Homo sapiens: one gene and its partners. The protein of the gene in region 2 purifies or fractionates together with the protein of the main gene of each other region. This does not show direct contact. Each region holds a gene or a part of one and is shown on either strand. Other genes may lie near its edges.

What was found.
Region 1: the proteins of HIGD1A (region 2) and EPB41 purify together in Homo sapiens (co-immunoprecipitation; one large-scale study listed by IntAct). This does not show direct contact.
Region 3: the proteins of HIGD1A (region 2) and PAK5 purify together in Homo sapiens (co-immunoprecipitation; one large-scale study listed by IntAct). This does not show direct contact.

What each region holds. Positions count from the first base shown.
Region 1 is NC_000001.11:28,917,481-28,921,136, forward strand, and holds part of EPB41 (protein 4.1), read left to right. Parts: intron 1-3,656. UniProt on the Homo sapiens protein: Protein 4.1 is a major structural element of the erythrocyte membrane skeleton. It plays a key role in regulating membrane physical properties of mechanical stability and deformability by stabilizing spectrin-actin interaction. Recruits DLG1 to membranes.
Region 2 is NC_000003.12:42,787,420-42,791,075, forward strand, and holds part of HIGD1A (HIG1 domain family member 1A, mitochondrial), read right to left. Parts: intron 1-3,656. UniProt on the Homo sapiens protein: Proposed subunit of cytochrome c oxidase (COX, complex IV), which is the terminal component of the mitochondrial respiratory chain that catalyzes the reduction of oxygen to water. May play a role in the assembly of respiratory supercomplexes.
Region 3 is NC_000020.11:9,832,572-9,836,227, reverse strand, and holds part of PAK5 (serine/threonine-protein kinase PAK 5), read left to right. Parts: intron 1-3,656.

The DNA of each region.
Region 1 (3,656 bases), on a different chromosome or scaffold from region 2:
ATGTTGGTCAGTATGGTCTCGATTTCTTGACCTCGTGATCCACCCGCCTCGGCCTTCCAAAGTGCTGGGATTACAGGCATGAGCCACCGTGCCTGGCCCTGTATACATATGTTTTTAGAGACAGGGATCTTACCTTGTTGCCCAAGCTGGAGGGCAGTGGCATGATCCTGGCTCACTGCCGCCTTGAACTCCTGGGTTCAAGTGATTCTCCCACCTGAGCCTCCTGAGCAGCTGGGACTACAGACGTGCACCACCATGCCCAGCTTTTTTTTTTCGTTTTTAAAACACGGGGTCCTGCTATTGTTTCCCAGGCTGGTCTCAAACTGCTGGTCTCAAACTCCTGAGCTCAAATGATCGTCTCACCTCTGCTTCCAAAAGTGCTGGGATTACAGACATGAGTCACTGTGCCCAGCTTAGTCTGTATTACAGACATGAGCCACCATGCCTGGTGTGTAATTGTTGGTGTGAATGATAGAGTTTGCTTACTTTTTTTTAATGTAGTAATCCAGTTTCATATTGCTAATCTGATTTCATAACTTTAGAATATCAGTGGCCATGAGAGGCTGAGTTTGGTTCTGAAATCAAGAGGAGCATAGATGTAGACCACAGTCTGTTTCCTTGTTATCTAAGAGGCAGGACAGCATAAGTGTTGCCAGTGTATTTTTGTTTTTCTTGTCTTTTCTGTCTCAGCCTCCTGAGTAGCTGGGACTACAGGCACACACCACCACACCCAGCTAAATTTTTGTATTTTTAGTAGAGACGAGGTTTCACCATGTTGGCCAGGATGGTCTCCAATCTCTTGACCTCGTGATCTGCCCACGTCCGCCTCCCAAAGTGCTGGGATTACAGGCATGAACCACCACACCCAGCCAATGGCCTGTATTTTTCTGAGTTTCATCAAGTTTGTGTTTGGTTAAATGCATATTCAGATGTGGATTCATTGCTACCTCTATATTTGAATTTTTTCTTTAATTACTTGAACATGGAATCACTTTATTTTGTGAGCTAAACAACAATAATTCCAATAACTTTTCTTATGAATAACTTTGTTTTTTTCCTCTAAATAAAGCCCCCAAAGATGGCCTCTGAATTAATCAGTTATGGGCCTTATGTATGTGAAGGATCCAAAATTATTGAAAAGTAATTGCTAGCTAGGTGCAGTGGTTTATGCTTGTAATCCCAGCACTTTGGGAGGCCGAGGCCCACGGATCACTTGAGCCTTTGAGTTTGAGACCACTGCATTCCAGCCTGGGCAACAGAGTGAAATTCTGTCTCAAAGAGAAAAAAGAAAAAGTAATTGCTTGATTGCATTTATCATAGCATTTAGTTAGAGGAGAGGAGAGGCAGATGCCAAATGTATGTTATTTTTTGTTGTTCATTTAAGTTTCTTGGTATGTCACTGGTGGCTTTTACTGTGCGTCCTTTTTAAGAGTGGGTTCATGGTGTGTTTAGTCAAATGCAATATAACTTACTCTGGAGTGCACACTGGGTTAGATTAGTATTTTGATTTACTCTGCTGCTATTTAATGAATACATAGAAAGATAAAGAAGAATGCTGTAGCAGTGAGGAGTATTCAGAACTTGGAGGTGTTAGAAAGGAGAACTTTGATATTTTATATTGAGTGCTGATCTCATTTAGAACTACCCACCTTACTGACACTTTGCTTCAAATATTGGTTTTGGGAAAATCCGATTATGATGAAAGTCTGTTTATACTTATTTTGCTGATTTTTTATTTAAATTGAATTGTATCCACTTAAAATATTTGAAAATAAATTGGCTAGCTCTTTGAACTTTGGAGAACAGCAGCCAGTATAATTCAAGGAGTAGCTTGAAGAGACTTTAATATCCCCTACCCGCTAGCTTCGTCAGCTTCCCACTAAGTCACCCTAAGTAAACATGCAATCTGGGTAGGAACTGGGAGCTTGATATCCAAATATTCTGTCTCTCCTTCCAGTCAAATTGCTATCCTTAAAAGTCCTTTCTTTCTTTTTTTTTTTTGAGGCAGGGTCTTGCTCTGTTGCCTAGGCTGGAATGCAGTGGCATGATCTCGGCTCACTGCAACCTCTGCCTCCCGGGTTCAAGCGATTCTTCCGCCTCAGCCTCCTGAGTAGCTGGGACTACAGGCATGCACGGCTAATTTTTGTATTCTTTGGTAGAAACGGGGTTTCACCATGTTGGCCAGGCTGGTCTTGAACTCCTGATCTCAAGTGATCCATCTGCCTTGGCCTCTGAGAGTGCTGAGATTACAGGCATGAGCCACAGCATCCAGCCCAAAAGTCCTTTCTATATAGAAATTCCAGAGACATTCTGGCGTCATGCTTTTAAATTATTTATTGTTTTATTATTTTTATTATTTTATTATTGCAATTAAGAGCAGTTCTCTTTTTTGCAAGTTATCTCTTATCTCCAAGTTAAATCTATGTGGATTAAACTGTGATTGTTTATTGAATTGCTGCTCTCCCTCTTCCGTAGCTGATGACTCTTTGAGTCAGTTCTACCCAATTAATCTAGGCCCTCAACTCTCAGGGTGATCTCTGCTTGTGGAGATTAAAATTGTTTCTAAGCTATGTGGAATAGAGCTTGGGTAAGGTTAAAGAAATTTTGGCAGGGTGGGTAGGAAGGGGCAAGATTATCTGTCTGATGGAATGGATAAGAAATATGACTGTGAGTTTATATTGATTAGATTGGAAGAAGCAATAGATGCTCTATTAAGATTATTTTCTATTACCTAATTCTATATTCAATGTATATCTACAATTCTGTTCTGTTATCTAATATCTATTAATAGAGACAGGAACACCTCCATCTTTTTTTGGAAATAGGTGGAAATAATCAAATAAGATTGGATATAATCTGTACTCTTGTAGTTAATTGTTATTTATAGATGCAACCTGATTCCATCCTCCACAAAAGTCACCCTAATGCAGATCAGCTTTTGGTAGGCCCTCTATATGTTTGAATCATAGCACCGGACACAACATAGACTGAGGTTTTGGTACTTTCTACATTAATATTCACTCAGAAAACTTTTGCCCATGCATTATATTTGTTATATCTGCATTAAATCATAAAAAAGTTATGATAGAAAAGTTTCAAGTGAGAAACTCCCCGTGATTTAACTATATTAGAGCACAGGATTATTTTATTTTTATTTATTTATTTATTTATTTTTTGAGACAGGGTCTTACTCCTGTCACCCAGGCTGGAGTGCAGTGGTGCGATCATGGCTCATTACAGCCTCAACTTCCCAGGCTCAGGTGATCTTCCCACCTCAGCCTCCTGAGTAGCTGGAGCTACAGGCTCCACACCTGGCTGATTTTTTATATTTTTAGAGACTGGGTTTTGCCATCTTGACCAGGCTGGTCTTGAACTCCTAGGCTCAAGAAATCTGCCTGCCTTGGCCTCCCAAAGTGCTGGGATTACAGGTGTGAGCCATGGCGCCCAGCCTATTTTAATTTTTAAAAATTTATATGGGGAGTCTCTCTATGTTGCTGAGGTTGGTGTTGAACCCCTGGGCTCAAGTGATCCTCCTGTCTCAGCCACCTAAATAGCTGGGACTACAGGTGTGTGCCATCACATCTAGCTAATAGAGTTGTTTTGAATTGGTTAAATTTAAGCCTGTAACCCATACGTGTAATAGAAATGTATATTTT
Region 2 (3,656 bases):
ATCTCTACTAAAAATACAAAAAATTAGCCGGGCATGGTGGCATGCGCCTGTAATCCCAGCTACTTGGGAGGCTGAGGCAGGAGAATGCTTGAACCTGGGAGGCGGAGGTTGCAGTGAGCCGAGATCACACCACTGCACTCCAGCCTGGGCGACAGAGCGAGACTCCATCTCAAAAATATATATATATATATATATATATATAAATTTTTAAAGTCATAAAACTTTAAAATAATCTAATATAGCAGCAAAATAAATAAATGGAGCAAAAATTGTTAGGAACACAAGATTAGCTCTATTAGAAGACAACAAAATGGGAAAATCTGTCTCTTTCAGAAAACAACAGAATAAGAAGCCCCAAACTAAAGCTACAGAATTGCACGGCACCATTAAATAAACTTACTTAAATTCTTAAAAATAAATAAAATTTAATATTTTAATTTAAAACAGAGATCCCACATTCTTTAAAATGTCTATGAAGCTTTGACAAAACCAATCATTTATTAGGCCACAAAGAAAATTCCAACTTCCAAAAAGTCCTTCTTCCTGGATGACTACCATAAGGCCAAAACTTAGCAATCAAAACGTAAAACAACCACACACATACCCCCACCTCTAACCACTGAGAAGCTGAGCACCAATAACTAGATTTGGAGGTTAAAGTAAAAACTGAGAGATTAGGAAGCTATCAAACATTATTTGAAAAATAAAAACAGTACTGGTTCTTAGAACAAATAAAATTGTAAAACCTCTAGGAAGTCTGATCAAAGAGAAAATAAACATACGACATTAGGAATGAGGAAGTGGATATAATCACAAGTGATAAAGAGATTTTTAAAAATAAGAGATGATTGCTCTTTGCCAATTAAATTTGAAAATCTAGGTGAAATGAATGATTTCTGAGGAGAATACAAATTCCTAAATTTGATTCAAGAAGTTGTAGAAAACCTTTCTATACCAATAACCATAGAAAGAATTAAATGGGCAATCCATGCTTTATCCCCAAAAGATAAAGACCCCAATAGTTTCATTAACAAGGTCTAATAAAAATTATAAGGGCATTCTCAATTCATGTTATTTAAAGTATTCCAGGGCATTAAAAACATAGCAATACATTTTTTTCCAATATATTTTCCAAGAAAACAAATCCCTGATACCAAAACAAAATTAAGATAACATAAGAGGCTGGGTGCAGTGGCTCACACCTGTAATCCAAGCACTTTGGGAGGCCGAGGCAGGTGAATCACTTGAAAACAGGAGTTCGAGACTAGCCTGGCCAAAATGGTGAAACCCCGTCTCTACTAAAAACACAAAAATCAGCCTGGTGTGGTGGCGGGAGTAGTCCCAGCTACTCAGGAAGCTGAGGTAGGAGAATCACTTGAACCCAGGAGGCAGAGGCTGCAGTGAGCCGAGATCCTGCCACTGCACTCCAGCCTGGGCGACAGAGCGGGACTGTCTCCAAAAACTAAAAAATAAAAAAAAAAGCCATGAGAAGAGAATTACAAAGCAATATAAATTATAAACATAGATATAAAATTCCTAAACCAAATACTAGCTTATCAACTTTAAAATGTATTAGAATAATATTATCAACCATGATCATTAGGTTTTTACTTTGGGAATTTTTTTTTTTTTTTTTTTTGAGACGGAGTCTTGTTCTGTCACCCAGGCTGGAGTGCAGTGGTGCAATCTCCGCTCACTGCAACCTCCGACTCCTGAGTTCAAGTGATTCTCCTGCCCCAGCTTCCCGAGTAGCTGGGATTACAGGAATGTGCCAACCACACCCGGCTAATTTTTGTATTTTTAGTAGAGATGGGGTTTCCCCACATTGGTCAGGCTGGTCTCGAACTCCTGACCTCATGATCTGCCTGCCTCAGCCTCCCAAAAAAGTGCTGGGATTATAGGTGTGAACCACTGTGCCTGGCCTACTTTGGGAATTAACCATTGCTTTTACATAAGAAAATCTTGGCCAGGAGCAGTGGCTCATCCCTGTAATCCTAGCACTTTGGGAGGCTGAGGTAGGAGGATTGCTTGAGGCCAAGGGTTTGAGACCAGCATGGGCAACAGAGTGAGACCTGTGTCTACAAAAAAAAAAAATTTTAATAAAAAATAAATTAAAAAAAAGAATTCACTGGAAGAACATCCAAGAACAAAAAAAAAAACGAAAAATCTCTTAAGATTCACGAAAGATGAAACTATGTGAACATCTGAATAGTAAAAGTAAATTAGAATATAGTTCAGACACCAAAAGCAAATACAAATTGTACTTAGTGTTAAAACACTATAAATATTCCATTTTTAATTTTTATCTATTTATTTATTTATTTAGAGACAGGGTCTTGCTCTGTCACCCAGGCTGTAGTGGCATGATCATGGTTCACCACAGCTTCGACCTCCCAGGCTCAAGCAAACTCCCATCTCAGCCTCCCAAGTAGCTGGGACTACAGGCGTGTGGCACCATGCCCAGCTAATTTTTAAATTTTTTTTGTAGAGACAGGGTCTCACTGTGTTGCCCAGGCTGTCTTGAACTCCTAGGCTCAAGTGATCCTCCTGCCTCAGCCCCGCAAAGCACTGGGATTACAGGAATGAGCCAAAGTGCTCAGCCTTATTTTTTATTAAAAAACGAAAAAGAGATAAGAAAAAAAAGTTCCCTTTAAAGATCAGAATAAGACAGGGATACATGTGAATACTGCTGTTGTTGCCTGGATATCCTAAACAATTTTAAATCACATAAAAAAAACTATACGCATAATTAGGAAGAAACTCTACTGGTTTGCAGATCATCTAACTGTGTGTATAGGAAATCCAAGAGAATCAAATGAAACACAACTAGAGGCCAGGTGCAGTGGCTCACGCCTGTAATCCCAGTACTTTGGGAGGCTGAGGCAGGTGGATCATTTGAGGTCAGGAATTCGAGACCAACCTGGCCAACATGGCAAAACCCTGTCTCTACTAAAACTACAAAAATTAGCCAGGTATGGTGGCAGGCGCCTGTAATACCAGCTACTCGGGAGGCTGAGGCACAAGAATTGCTTGAACCCGGGAGGCGGAGGTTGCAGTAAGCTGAGATTGTGCCACTGCACTCCAGCCTGAGCGACAGAGCAAGACTCCGTCTCGAAAGAAAGAAAGAAAAACAACTAGAACCAATAAGAAAAAAGATTACTTTGATGAATACATTAAAAAGCATATCTAGAGAAATTAAATTTCTAGACCTAGAGAAAACAATAAAATCATATTTAAGGACACAAAAGGTTTGAATGAAAATCAGTAGATGCACCACATTCTAAAATTTCCATTCTCTCCAAATTTATAAATTCAATGTAATCCAAATGTAAAAATGAGACATTTTTCCCGTTTTGGACTGGGCAAGCCAGTTTCTTTTTCTTTTCTCTCTTTTTTTCAGACACGGCGTCTTCCTATGTTTCCCAGACTAGAGTTCAGTGGGTATTCGCAGGCATGATCATTATACACTACAGCCCTGAACTCCTGGGCTCAAGTGACGCTCCTGCCTTGGCCTGCTGAGTAGCTGCAATTAACAAGCTAATTTCAAAGTAAACAGGCAAGCTCTTTTTAAGAAGGTAGAATAGTGAAAGTGTACTGGCTTATGAGGTATCTAAACATACCACTAAGTTTCTGGCAGACAGATCAAAGCAACAAAA
Region 3 (3,656 bases), on a different chromosome or scaffold from region 2:
CCTATGAACTGTGTTTGATGACAACATTAACATTATGTTAGCATAAGAGGTAAAGATAGAGTAGCATGGATTCAGAAAATACTTTAAAGATTATTTAAGGGAACTAACCTATTTGAGGCTTTATATACACAACCATGGTAGGGAAGAGCAGGGTTCAAAAGTACCTCATTTATGCATGTCACTTACCTGGGAGCCAAGACAACCCAGGACCTGGATCTTCTAGAGTATCTCAAACATACTGTGCCCCCAGTTGATTTGTTGATGTTGCCTTCCATCCTTCTTGCTAACCTTCCAAACAAATGCAAAAAAACCAAAATGCATTAAATAACAAAAACAATAATAGCAACAAAGGCAAGCTAACAACTTTCTAGTCCTTCTTAACCTGGTAAATGGCACCACTATCCATCGAGTTGCTTTAACCAGAAACCCAAGAATCACCTTTGACACCTCCTTTCCCTTGACCCTCCACATTTAAAACCATCATGCAGTCTTATAAATGCTATTTTCTCTATAGATCTCTAAATACATCTTGATAAATTATTTCTATCCCCACCACCACCACTATCAAACTGCAAGAGATGATAATCTCTTACCTGGACCACTAGAATAACTTCCTAACAAGACCCCTGGTTCCTTGCCTGGCTCTTCTAATCCTTCATCCAGAGCAGAGAGGATAATGTCAGTTCCCTACATAAAATACCACCCACACACCTGGGACAGATTCCAGAGACTCCTAGAGCCTCTGATACTTGGCCAGCCTCATCTTGTGCATCTCTTCCTCTTGATGCTGTCACACTGACCCTCTGTCTGTTTCTGGAACATCCCCAACCATCTTCCCTCTATATTTTACCAGTCTGGGTCATACTCATCCCTTGGGCTTCCTTGATCTCTCTTCCCCACCGACCCAACTCTCTCATCATCCTTTCACTTTTATTCCACAGCACTTATTCCAGTTTGCAAATGCCTGTTTGTTTGGCTATGTCTGTAAGCTCTATAATGGCCATTTATTTTATGTCTTATATGCAGAAGGTGCTCAATGAACTTTTGGTGAATGAGTGAAGGAACGAATACTCTGCCTCATAGCATTTTCCTGTGCCAACTTCAAGATCTGATTTTTAGAAGGTTTTTCTTTTCTAGTATAGAAAGAGCAATTTAGAACCTTATTCTGACTTCAAAAGGAGAGTATTCTTGGCTTTAACAAATGCATCTTTTAAGAACTGATTTAGGCTAGAAGTTAAGAATTGAGTCAAAATATTTTTTTGGCAACTGAGGTTTTTGTAAAAATACATCAATCAGTCAATAAATATTCTGCAAATATTTATTGCATGTGTATATTTGCCATGCTACACCCTTGGAAGACAATGGTGAGCTAGACTTTCAGTCTTCTGGAAATTAATGGTAAACAATAAATAATAATCATTATGTATAATAATAAATAAATAATACATTTAATTATTTGTTGAGCTTCTGTTATATGCCAGTGTCTCTTCAATTCCTGTCCATAATCATCACTATAACCCTCTAATCTTTCCCAATAACACAGAACCCCACACTTACTAGGAGCACAACAAATATTTTGTGAATTAATAATTTGTTGGTATTATTATTCTGATCTGTTGAAATAGGAAATGTGTGCTTATCTGGGGAAAAAGGTATCTGCACATATATAGAAGAGCATGCAATTGCTTTCTCACCATATCTAGGTGGGCACTGTTTTATTTTAAAAATCATCCTGGACATTATCTCTGGAGGTAAATTAGGAGAGAAATTGCTCTTTATAAGGCGACAAGTTCCTGGTGTGTTTCTGTCAAAATCCTGAATTGTTTTATTTCGTTTAATTGTCTAAATTTGTCCTGTTTAATCCAAGTGAGAAGTGACTTAATGTCTCTCATTCAGAGCCCTTTTTGTAGTTTTGAATAGTAAGACTGAGTGCCCAAGGGAAATGAATGTAGTTCAACAGAGGAACACATGTTATGTTTTAGATTTCTAAAGTGGCTTCAATTTCAGATTTTTATATTAGTCTCATAAAAGGGTGATTTTTAAAAATAAACAGTAAAATAGCATTTAATGCCTATGTTTAAGTAAAGTTTTTAATGTAAGTAACCAAAAATTAGACAGTGTGCCTTGATTTTGTTTAAAAGTGATGGATACACAATGGGATCAATTAAAGCCTAAAGGAACTAGTACAAAATTTCAGTAATGTTTTTGGTTATAAAATACATGTTCAAAAATTGATGGCCACCCAAAATGCCAGTGTTTTACTAACTAAAAAGTAGAATGGAAAATGATTCTATTCATGAATTCACTAATATATAAATTGAGTGGGAAAAACAGGAAACATACATAAAATACTCGTGAATAATAAGAAATATATAAAAGTCTTTGTGGAAAGCTATACAATTTTACTCAAACCAATAAACTGAGGAGCAAACAAAGAAAGACATACCTTATGCTTTGGTAGAAAGATGAATATTATGAAACGGTTATTTTTCCCAGATCAATTATATAGTTTTATTACATTGGGATTTGGGAGAACCTTACAAAATGATTCTAACATCCATCTGGAAGAATCACCATATAAAAATAAAAGAAAACTTTTCAAAAGAATAGTAGTGGTGGTGGGGGAGGTGAGTGGTGGTGGTAAGATGGGAGGTGGTGGTACATACAGGTGGTGTGGAGAGTGGAGTTCTAGGGGTGGTAAAGGTGGGGGGAAGTTTGATGGTGGAGACGAATACATGAAGGTGGTGGGATGAGGTGGTATGGATGGGGGTGGTGGGTGGTAGATGTGGGTGGTTGGGGGGTGAAGGTAGGTAGATGGAAGTGGTAGTGGTAATGGGCGCCATTGTTGAAACAAAAGTAAATTTGATCATTGGCTACAATCATTATAGCAATGTAGTACTGGTGTAAGAATTGATTAATAGCTCAGTGGAATAGAAGAGCCTGGAAACAGATTTAGGTCATTCTTAGAACCAGAAATATGACGAAGAAGGCATTATGAAACAGTGAGGAGTATTTGACAAAACGTCATGGAAATTGGCTAAGTGTATAGAAAGCATTCAACTAAGAACCTCTGTTTACATGACCCTCCAAATGAAATTCCACATAAATTGATAAGTTTATATGCAAGGTGGAAAACAAAGCTAGAATAAAATATTTAACTAATTTTAGGGGAAGTACTTTTTAAATATAAAATCAATGGGAAGAATCACAAAGCAAAATAAAGATTTGAATATATTTTAAACTCTCATATGCAGCAATGCATGCATTTTAAACAGAACAGAATCATGGAAAACAATATTGACACCAAACATGACATGACAGTTCATGATAGCCCTGAGGAACTCTTGCAAATCAGTGAGTAAACAATAGCACCCCAATAGAATTGTCCAAATATCTGAATGCATAATTCAAAAGGAAAAAATAAAAGACCAATGCACACGTTTAATAAATGTTATTACTATTAATCACAGAAATGCAAATTAAAATAACAATGAGGTGGTGTGTTTTATGTATTAAAAAAGTAAAAAATACAAAAAATAAACTTAATACTGGCAAGGATGCAGTGAGAAGGACAATCTCTTTCATTACTTGTGGTGGGAGGGTTACATAATACAAGCTTCCTACAGAGAAGTTTAAAAATACTTATCAAAATGTCT